2 linked regions of the Homo sapiens genome follow. The protein of the gene in region 1 purifies or fractionates together with the protein of each later gene. This does not show direct contact. Each region holds a gene or a part of one and is shown on either strand. Other genes may lie near its edges.

Region 1 (5,076 bases):
GTCTAAGCTCACAAGAGGTTTCTTTTTGTTTAATTCGGAGTGATGTCCAGCTAAGCCGTACCATATTCAAGGAGTATCCTTATTATCTTCCTTAGCTCACTAGCAAAGGAAGTTCTCCCATATTGATGGTAGGTAAATCTTAGCTTAAAGAGATAGAAGCAGTGCTCTCAGTTCATTGGAAAGATAATAGAACTGAGAAAGACAGGCTGATAGCTAAGCCAGGTTGAGGGCCTAGATATCATGGTTTCAGTGCTTTAGACGTGCTGGTATAGAGGTGGAATTATACCAGGACAAAAGGAGAAGAATGAATTCACCATGATCAGGAACCATGTCGCCTTCCTGGAAGACCCAGAGACCTAGAGTTCACATCAGAACTGAAAATGGACCCATCACCAATGGGACAGCGCTTCAGCAGAAAACTCTCTCACCAGAATTCTCCATCCTCAACTTTCTTGTCCAGTTCTTCCTTCCGCCGGGGGTCTATGTGATTCCACTCTGGTGCACTGAGGGGAAAACAAGCAGAGATGCTCGCTCCTGAGAGGTTCTACAAGCAGGGCAAGCTGTTTACTGCAGCTAAGCTTCCCCCTAAGAGCCAGAAACAAAATACCAAAAGCACTGCAGGCAGACAGAAAGGCAGAATGGACAGTGTGGCGCGAGCACACTGTCTGGGGAAGGGACACAGACCCAGGACACGGACTCCATGGGCACTAGCACGATGGCCTTGGACATGTGCCAGGAACATTATGACTCAAACATTATGCTCTAATTTTTACTCTCTAGGGCAAATTTGACATTTCTAATTAAGACTCCCAGGCCCCTGTTTGCAGGAATGGGGAGGCCCAGGAGAGAACGTGGATGAGTTCTCGTCACTGGAAAGGCAGGCACTCCAGTACCCATTAGTCACTTATCACTCTGGCTTATCCAGCAGTCTAGGGTGAATATGCTGACAGAGTCTAACCAGCTCTGGGGACATGGACATGGTTCACTTCCTTACACCCACGAGAATGATCATCCAGCCCAGTTTTACGGCAATTTCCCAGAAGAAACGTCACCCTGTGAGACCTCCTGCTGGTGGCCTTTCAAGGGCAATATCTATGCACTTTGTTTGAATGCCATCTCCAGCTTCCTGACCTTTACGAAGTTAGGTTTTCCTGAAATATGTATGTGACATCTAAGTAACAGAGCAGTATCAAGATCCATCTTTAAAAAAAAAAAAATCCCTGCCTGAATACCTTCAGCAAAACCTAAGCACCTTCTCTCCCCAGCATAAGAGCTGGGGCACACTCCAGCGCAGCCTCTTCCTCCAAGCCAGGCTTTAAGACCCCGGGGGTCAGCACGACAATTCCCAGAGCCTCTTCAATTCATTGAAACATTAATTTGATTAAAACCAAATCTCAGAATGTGCTTGTTATAAACAAAGATTAGGGCAGGAGTTGGAAAATTCCAGATCTGACCTACTGCTCCAATTTCTTTTTTTTACTTTTTTTTTTTTTTTTTAAGTAAAATCTCACTAATCCCTGGGCTGAGCTTAGGGATGTTGCCTTAGAGATTCGGCACCCTCCTCCTCCAATAGCTGATATATATAATTATCCCAGGTTGCATCTCCAGCTGGTAGGGCCTCCAGGACTTGACAGTCACCACCTCCCGCCTGCCAGGGAGCGGGTGCTCAGGGAAAGGAGAGAAAGTCAAACAAGCCCTTTGGACAGCTCGGTAGTGACTTTTGGTAAGAATGGCCCACATTCAGGGTTTCAATTTCACGTGGCCCTGTCATCCTTTTAGGGAAGTTGGCGGAACTGAGGTTTTGGGTTTTGCTCAATCTTACACAGTAGAATGAAAAATCCTTCCTACAGGAGGCTCATGTGTGGCCCTAGAGACACGTGTTTCTTCGTGACACAACCTGAAGGGAGTTACTGCCCCTCTGCGTGGTCATGACATGAGCAGTCATGATGCTGTGATTAAACTTGGCGATGTCCCCTTCGAAAGCCCTGGTGGCATCACAGAGTACCGACAGCACTTGAGGATTAAGGACGTATTGGGAGGGGGCATTATTGTGACCATTTTCATTTCTGGTGGTTCTTTGTCCATGAGACTGGCTAATTATTTTTTTTTTTTAAATGGAGTCTTGCTCTGTTGCCCAAGCTGGAATGCAGTGGCCCAATCTCGGCTCACTGCAACCTCCAACTCCTGGGTTCAAGCGATTTCCAGCTAATTTTTGTACTTTTAGTAGAGACGGGGTTTCACCATGTTGGTCAGGCTGGTCTCGAACTCCTGAGCTCAAGTGATCCACCCGCCTAGGCCTCCCAAAGTGTTAGGATTACAGGCCTGAGCCACTGTACCCAGCTGAGACTGGCTAATTCTAATTCCTCCCCCACACTAACCTGCCTCTGCCAGGCCAGCTGTGCTCACTGGACAGAAACCACCCCATGCTTTCCACCCTCCTGCATGATGGGGACATGGATTCCAGGGCCCAGCTGTCCTGGGACATCACCACCTCTGACTGACTTTCCCTCATCAGCAGAGAGGCCTGCCCAAGAGGAGTCTCTCCAGTCAGTGATCAAACGTGCCTAGGGTAGGAGCGAGTGCCGCTGCCTCATTCATCACTGCTGCCAGGGCCCGGGGCTCCTAGGGTCAAATTTCATTTTCTCAGCATCCTTGTTTCTTCTTGGTGCTGAGGGGTTTGGCCTTTGTCAGTGTCCAGTGTTTGTGGAGTGGAAAGAAACAGACTGTGAGTGATCGATTTGACCTTTGGACCAGCACGGTGCGTCAGGTAAAAAACACAAAAACCTTTCAGCGCAAAGCAAAATTCCACAGAGCCGCCAAACTTTCAAATGCCAAAGCAGAAAGCCAGAATCGAAGACTACAGCCCAGTGGTTTTTATTTTGCTTTTCCCAGCCTGGATCCATTTAATACTCTTTTCTGAACACACTGTGTGATCTGCAGACAGGACGTGCTGCTGAACTCACTGTGACATCGATCTCATTGTTGTGTGTTTTACACGACACCCTTCCGCAGAGGGAGAGATGACTGGAGAAGCGGGGGAAAAAAACCTACTCATCGCTCCAGGCTCCCGACCACTCCACTTCACCCCATGGATTCCTGAGTCTGATCAGCTTCTCTGGATGGCCCTGGAAATTCACCTGCAAATTCCATACACAGAAAAGCGACTGAATTACTATGCTCCTGTTGCCTTGCAGGCATGTCTGCACCTGACAGGATCTGCATTAAATTTTTCAAATGTCCCTAAAGGACCACACTTTTATTTTCCTTTAATGCATCTTTTCAGGCTTGGGCCAAGTGTTTTCATAATTTGTTTGAATAAATGAGGTATTTTTCATAATTTGTTTGAATAAATGAAGAGTGAGTCTAGCCCAAAAACAAGCTTATGTCTGCTTTAACTCAGATTTAGATTTTATAGTTGACTAAGATTGACTGAGCTTTTAATACATGAGACCTAATGATAATAAACGCCCTCCAAACAAACACCAAAGCACGGCAGTTAACATTTATCGAGCAGGTACTACAGATGAGGTGTAGTGCTAAGCATTTTAGGTGCTTTATTGCCTCATTTAACACTCACGACAATCCTGAGAAGATAAAGAATTATCTTCATTTCATAGCTCAAAAATCTGAGACTTAAAGAAGTTACATTATCCGAGATTATCTAGTTAGTAAGTGGTGAACGCAGGCCAGGAACTCAGGCAGTCCGTCTCCAAAGCCCATACTCCTAAATCCACATATACTGCTTTCCCCTATTTATTGAACACTCAAGCATAAGCCCCTTGGGCCCCTGCACACACACTGGCATTCACATATACACACACCAACTGTGTAGGCTGTTAGGTCCTCATTGTCTTCATTTCCTGTGTATCCCCCAACTCACCTAGCCCAATGTTTGCATGTACATGTTCAATTCCCATTTATGAGATTAACTTCATTAAAGAGCATATTTGGGCCAGGCGCAGTGGCTCACGCCTGTGATCCCAGCACTTTGGGAGGCCGAGGTGGGCAGATCATGAGGTCAGGAGATCAAGACCATCCTAGCCAACATGGTGAAACCCCATCTCTACTAAAAATACAAAAAAAATAATTAGCTGGGCGTGGTGGCGCGTGCCTGTAATCCCAGCTACTCGGGAGGCTGAGGCAGGAAAATCACTTGAACCAGGGAGTCAGAGGTTGCAGTGAGCCGAGATCGTGCCCCTGCACTCCAGCCTGGTGATAGAGCAAGACTCCACCTGAAAAAAAAAAAAAAGAAAAAAGAAAAGCATATTTATGAAACACAAACACATGTAAAGAACATCTGTTTCATTTAACTCTATTTATTTATTTATTTTTGAGACAGGGCCTCTCTCTGCCACCTAGGCAGGAGTGAAGTGGTGCAATCACTGCAGGCTCTCAAGCGCCTGCCCGGGCTCAAGCGATCCTCCCACCTCAGCCTCCCGAGTAGCTGGAACTACAGGCACACCCTACTATGCCTGGCCTATTTCAGTTAAATAAATAACAAGAGGTGGGACATTCATTGCATTTCCCTTTCTGCCTTGGCCATTGGGAAGCCCAAAGCAAAATTAATTTCTCAATTATAGCACTGTCTTCAGCGTGGATTGATGTATTTTACTTAGTTGTGTGGTTTTATCATGTCTGTTCTTTTAATGGTAAACCACTAGCTGGGTATGGTGGCTCACACCTGTAATTTCAGCACTTTGGGAGGCCGAGGCAGGAGGATGGCTTGAACCCAGGAGTTCAAGACCAGCCTGGGCAACACAGACAGACTCTGTCTCTACAAAAATTTTTAAAAAATTAATAATTAGCCAGGCATGATGGCACTTGCCTGTAGTCCCAGCTACTTGGGAGGCTGAAGCAGGAGGGTCACTTGAGCCCAGGAGGTTGAGGCTGCAGTGAGCCAAGATCATGCAACTGCAGTCCCACCTGGGCAATGGAGCAAGACCCTGTCTCTAAATAAATAAATAAATAAATAAATAAATAAAATCATTGTAAGCCACCTTAAATCCCTTTTGAAAGAAGACACAATGTAGGAAATAAAAATAATGAATAGGCCGGGTGCGGTGGCTCACACCTGTA
Region 2 (4,832 bases), on another chromosome or scaffold:
TATCTCAGGGGTGTTTCCCCTGATTATCCATGAGGTTCTCTTTATGCTCCGCTCCCTGTAGGGTCTGGCAGGCTTCCCAACTTATCTGGTGTTCAAGGTGGGCCTAAGGGTGAAACTGGAGCCCACCTGGATACAGAGATCTGTATTAGTTTTGTGTTTATTGATGGGAGAAAGTATTTGGGGTCATCCACCTTGAATGCTACATAAATGTCTTCTACTCAAGGAGTCACATAATAAATCTCTCCAAAGGTGCGGTGGCTCACACCCGTAATCTCAGCACTTTGGGAGGCTGAGGCAGGAAGATTGCTTGAGCCCAGGAGCTCGAGACCAGCTTGGGCAACGTGGTGAAACCCCATTTCTATAAAAAATACAAAAATTAGCTAGCTGTGGTGGTGTGCACCTGTGGTCCTAGCTACTTGGGAGGCTAAGGCAGGAAGATCTTCTGAGCCCAGGAGGTCGAGGCTGCAGTGAGCCATGATTGTGCCACTGCACTCCAGCCTGGGTGCATTTGAGCAAGATCCTATCTCAAATGAGTGAATAGACAAATCTCTAGGACTCACCTTGAGGGCTGTCAGGAAACCCTCTGGAAAAGGATGTCTCATGGATATGCCAGTGTAAACTCTCCTGAAATAACCCTTTCTCTTCTCTACCCAGACTAACTTTACCTACCCTTTGGGGCCCAACTCAGATCCCTCCTTCTTGGTAAAAAGCCAGTTCAGACTGAAGCAATCCCTTCTATTAACCACATTAATTATTACTGCAATTAATCTCACAATACCTTGAGGCTCCGAGTGCTGAGAGGATTTTGCCTTTTGTTATAGTGATGGAAAGGATGCATTTCAATATGTTGCCTTGCAGTGCAAACCTTTGTTAACAGGGCAAAAATAGCACAGGGGGCAGGAATTACATTCCTGGATGTGCATTTGGCTTATTTACATGGATTTGGGTGCCCTCTAAGGACACCATCTTCTCTCCCCTCCAAGAGGGTCAGGCCACAGGACATCCATGTTCTTGGCCTCCCATGGGAGAGGGTCTCTCGCCAGAGGAAGGGAAAGCCAAGTGGCCACAGAGTTCCAGCCTGTCCCTGTGACAGCCCCTGCCTCTGGCCAGACATCCACCCACCCTTGCTAAGTCAGCCTGCTCTGGGGCTACTAGGCCCAGTCCTTGCTGTCTGTCGGAGACAGACCATGAAGTGCAGTGTGTGGAGGGCTGGGACATAGCATACCGAATTACCCCAGGGAGCTTGGAAAACATCTCTTCCCACTCTCTGTTAGGCCCACGGCTTCCTCTACTGGAGGAGACGGCATGTGAGGATGGAACTCGGTCATTCCTCTGTCACCACCGATGTGAACAGTCTGGAATCCTGCACACAGGAGACTGACGATCCCTGAGCAACCTTTAGTAGCTCCTACCATTGGGCATTTTCTTGGTACAGATCACAAATAAGAGACATCATAGAAAATGTTATTCTTTTATTATTTCAAGGAGGTAATACATAGCCCAATATGGCAAAGCAAAAGGGAATTAGAGGCAGCAAATGGCCAGGTTTTTCTAAGCGCCTCATGCTGCATCTCTGAGCTCCTGTCTGCCCGCAGCCCACAGCTGCTTACATGAAGGCCAGGTCAGTAGACAGATGGCCCAACTTGATACTCCACTGACTGAGAAAGGGCTCAATGTGCAGCACAGCAGAGGCACTGCCAGGACCCAGCACGCTGGGCGGCACCCCACGCTGCCACCACCAGCTACAGAGGCTAGTGCCTTAGTAGCAGCCAGTGTGTCTAGCACTTGATTTTATTCCTGTGAGCCTAGAGTGGGCAGGACGTGAATAAATCCTGAGTCATAAGTTAAGGTGAAAGACTTAGTAGTGTTAATACTCTTGGTGAGAAAAGACAACACAGTCTTGGAGGAGAGTGGGCTTGGAGTCTGGTGGAAGAAAGATAGAAACCCCCAGAAGGGCCTCGGCCTGCAGGCACTGCCTTGAGGCCATCAGAGGGGGTTTTCACGGTACATGATAGGGAGGAGTGAGGCAGGTGGGCACTGGAGGGCTGTTTCCTCTGGCACAGTTGAACTAGAGGGTCACTTTCCACTCATAATTGGTTTCCTAGGTCTAAGTCACCACACCTGGGGCTGAAGCAAGTCTTGCCTGTGCACCAAGCGTGGCCTTGGACCCTGGAGAGATGCAAGGCTCAGTTCTCCAGTGTTGAAGTGGAAGGACTCCCAACTGAAGGAGATCTTTCTCTCCCCACCTCCAGCTCTTTTCCCTTACAAATGACCAGGGTGCAAGTCGAGAGGCAGAGGCACCTCCTGGTGCAACTCCACCACAGTCTTACAGAGAACTCATCTTGGTGGGACCCAAAGCCCAGCCTTGGCATGAAGCAGACTTATTCCACCCATCGGAGGGCACCCAGTCTGGTGACTGAATGGTGGCGTGCAAGTGGGAGTCAGCAGTGGCTCTGGATGCCGTAATACTCAGATGCCATTCATCTCTGTGTGATCGTCCTGGCTGGAGAGCTGGTGAGGAGGGACTGCTTCCTCCTGGCATGCACTGTTCACCAACCACACCACGTGGGCTGATAGATTTTTGGTTTGACAGGTGTGGAAAGAATTTTTAAAACCAGCCACTGTGTTCTCCAAACCCAGAGCCATTGGTTTTGTTTGACAAGAAAGTACCAAGAGAACCACAGCTCCACTGAGGCTAAGGCTTGTGTAGCACAGAATGCAGTATGTATTGAAACGTATAAACCTTGTCTGACTGGGGAGATGGGTGAGCAAAGAGCTGCCGGGACCCAGGTCCTCTAGTCGGTTGCAGGCTCTGCCGATGTCTCATCCTTAAGCTCCTCAAAACCTGGGACTGGCTTCTGTAGAAAGTATGTAGTGGCCTGGATCACCTTGTCTGGTCCAATGTTGTACACTGGGTGAGTGGGCTGCTGCAAAGAGAAGAAAAGGTGCCAGTTAATCACCCCGGTGGTCCTTGAAAACATAACACATCCTTTGCTCCATGAAAGGCACTTCTAAGAATTTAGTATAAGGAATCAGAGATACACACAAAGCCCAAAGGTTCAAAAATGGTGTATTTGCTAAAACTATCTAGTACATGGGACACAGGTTAATATACAGCCATTATAAACACGCATTTAAATATTTAACGATACAGGCAAATACTTACAACATATTATGTGAGAAAACAGTATGTACAATACTATCTCAAACTGTTTTTTTTTTTTTTTTTTTTTTTTTGAGAGAGTCTTGCTCTGTTGCCCAGGCTGGAGTGCATTGACACGATCTTAGCTCACTGCAACCTCTGCCTCCTGTGTTCAAGCAATTCTCCTGCCTCAGCCTCCTGAGTAGCTGGGATTACAGGTGTGAGCCACCACGCCTGGGTAATTTTTGTATTTTTTTTTTTTTTTTTTGAGACGGAGTCTCTCGCTCTGTCGCCCAGGCTGGAGTGCAGTGGCGGGATCTCGGCTCACTGCAAGCTCCGCCTCCCGGGTTCACGCCATTCTCCTGCCTCAGCCTCCCAAGTAGCTGGGACTACAGGCGCCCGCCACTACGCCCGGCTAATTTTTTGTATTTTTAGTAGAGACGGGGTTTCACCGTTTTAGCCGGGATGGTCTCGATCTCCTGACCTCGTGATCCGCCCGCCTCGGCCTCCCAAAGTGCTGGGATTATTTTTGTATTTTTAGTAGAGACAGGGTTTCACCATGTTGGTCCGGCTGGTCTCGAACTCCTGACCTCAGGTGATCCACCCGCCTCGGCCTCCCAAAGTGCTGGGGTTACAGGTGTGAGCCACCACACCTGGTCTCAAACTTTTTAAAAAGTGTATTTGTACCTGTGATGTATATAAATAGCAAAAATTGTACCCATACCAAAATATTAATAGTGATATGATTGTTTTTCATTTTCTTTTTTATATTTTATGTATCCCAATTATTAAAACAATAAACATGTATTTACATTTATAATCAAGAAAAAGGGGGCCGGACGCGGTGGCTCATGCCTGTAATCCCAGCATTTTGGGAGGCCGAGGTGGATGGATCACCCGAGGTCAGGAGTTCAAGACCAGCCTGGCCAAGATGGTGAAACCCCGTCTCTACAAAAATACAAAAATTAGCCGAGCATGATGGTGAGTGTCTGTAATCCCAGCTAGTTGGGAGGCTGAAGCAGGAGAATTGCTTGAACCCGGGAGGCGGAGGTTGCAGTGAGCCAAGATTGTGCCACTGCACTCTAACCTGGGCAACAGCGAGACTCTGTCTCAAAAAAAAAAAAAAAAGAAAAAAGGACCACAACCCTAATATGTAGTAAGGCTGTCAGATCATATTTAAATATATAAACAAAATTTAAATATGAAATTTAAATTAAATAGATGTTATTCTAGTACATCACAGAAACCCAAAAGAAACTTTAGATTTGACACGGCATAATCCTAGGCCAATATTCAGGATTCTCCCACTGTGGGATAATGAAGAAGGGGACACAACTGCAGGAGAGATTTTAAAAATTTTGAGAGAATACTAGGAGCAACCTCATGCTGAAACATACAAAAATTCAGATAAAACAATAATTTTTAAAAACCAGGAAAACTGCCAAAATTGACTTAAGGAATTTTTAAAGGCCTACATGAAGAAATTAGTAACAACAATTGCTTATTCTGCCACCCCCACATACCTTAAAAGATACTAGACCTAGATGGTTTCTCAGGCAAGTAGTATCAAACCTACAAAGAAACAGATAATCTCTGATCTATACAAACCTTTTAAGGACTGAAAAAAAAAAAGGGGCTAGTGCGGGGGCCAGGTACAATGGCTCACACCTATAATCCCAGCACTTTGGGT

What was found. The genes of interacting proteins can lie anywhere in the genome.
Region 2: the proteins of CAPN8 (region 1) and FNTB purify together in Homo sapiens (affinity purification with mass spectrometry, with the first as the bait; one large-scale study listed by BioGRID). This does not show direct contact.

Annotation. Positions count from the first base shown.
Region 1 is NC_000001.11:223,619,764-223,624,839, forward strand, and holds part of CAPN8 (calpain-8), read right to left. Parts: intron 3,138-5,076; coding exon 3,052-3,137; intron 504-3,051; coding exon 429-503; intron 1-428. UniProt on the Homo sapiens protein: Calcium-regulated non-lysosomal thiol-protease. Involved in membrane trafficking in the gastric surface mucus cells (pit cells) and may involve the membrane trafficking of mucus cells via interactions with coat protein.
Region 2 is NC_000014.9:65,059,276-65,064,107, reverse strand, and holds the end of FNTB (protein farnesyltransferase subunit beta), read right to left. Parts: intron 2,928-4,832; coding exon 2,796-2,927; 3' UTR 1,458-2,795; downstream 1-1,457. Other genes in the region: CHURC1-FNTB protein, read right to left, coding at 2,796-2,927. UniProt on the Homo sapiens protein: Essential subunit of the farnesyltransferase complex. Catalyzes the transfer of a farnesyl moiety from farnesyl diphosphate to a cysteine at the fourth position from the C-terminus of several proteins having the C-terminal sequence Cys-aliphatic-aliphatic-X.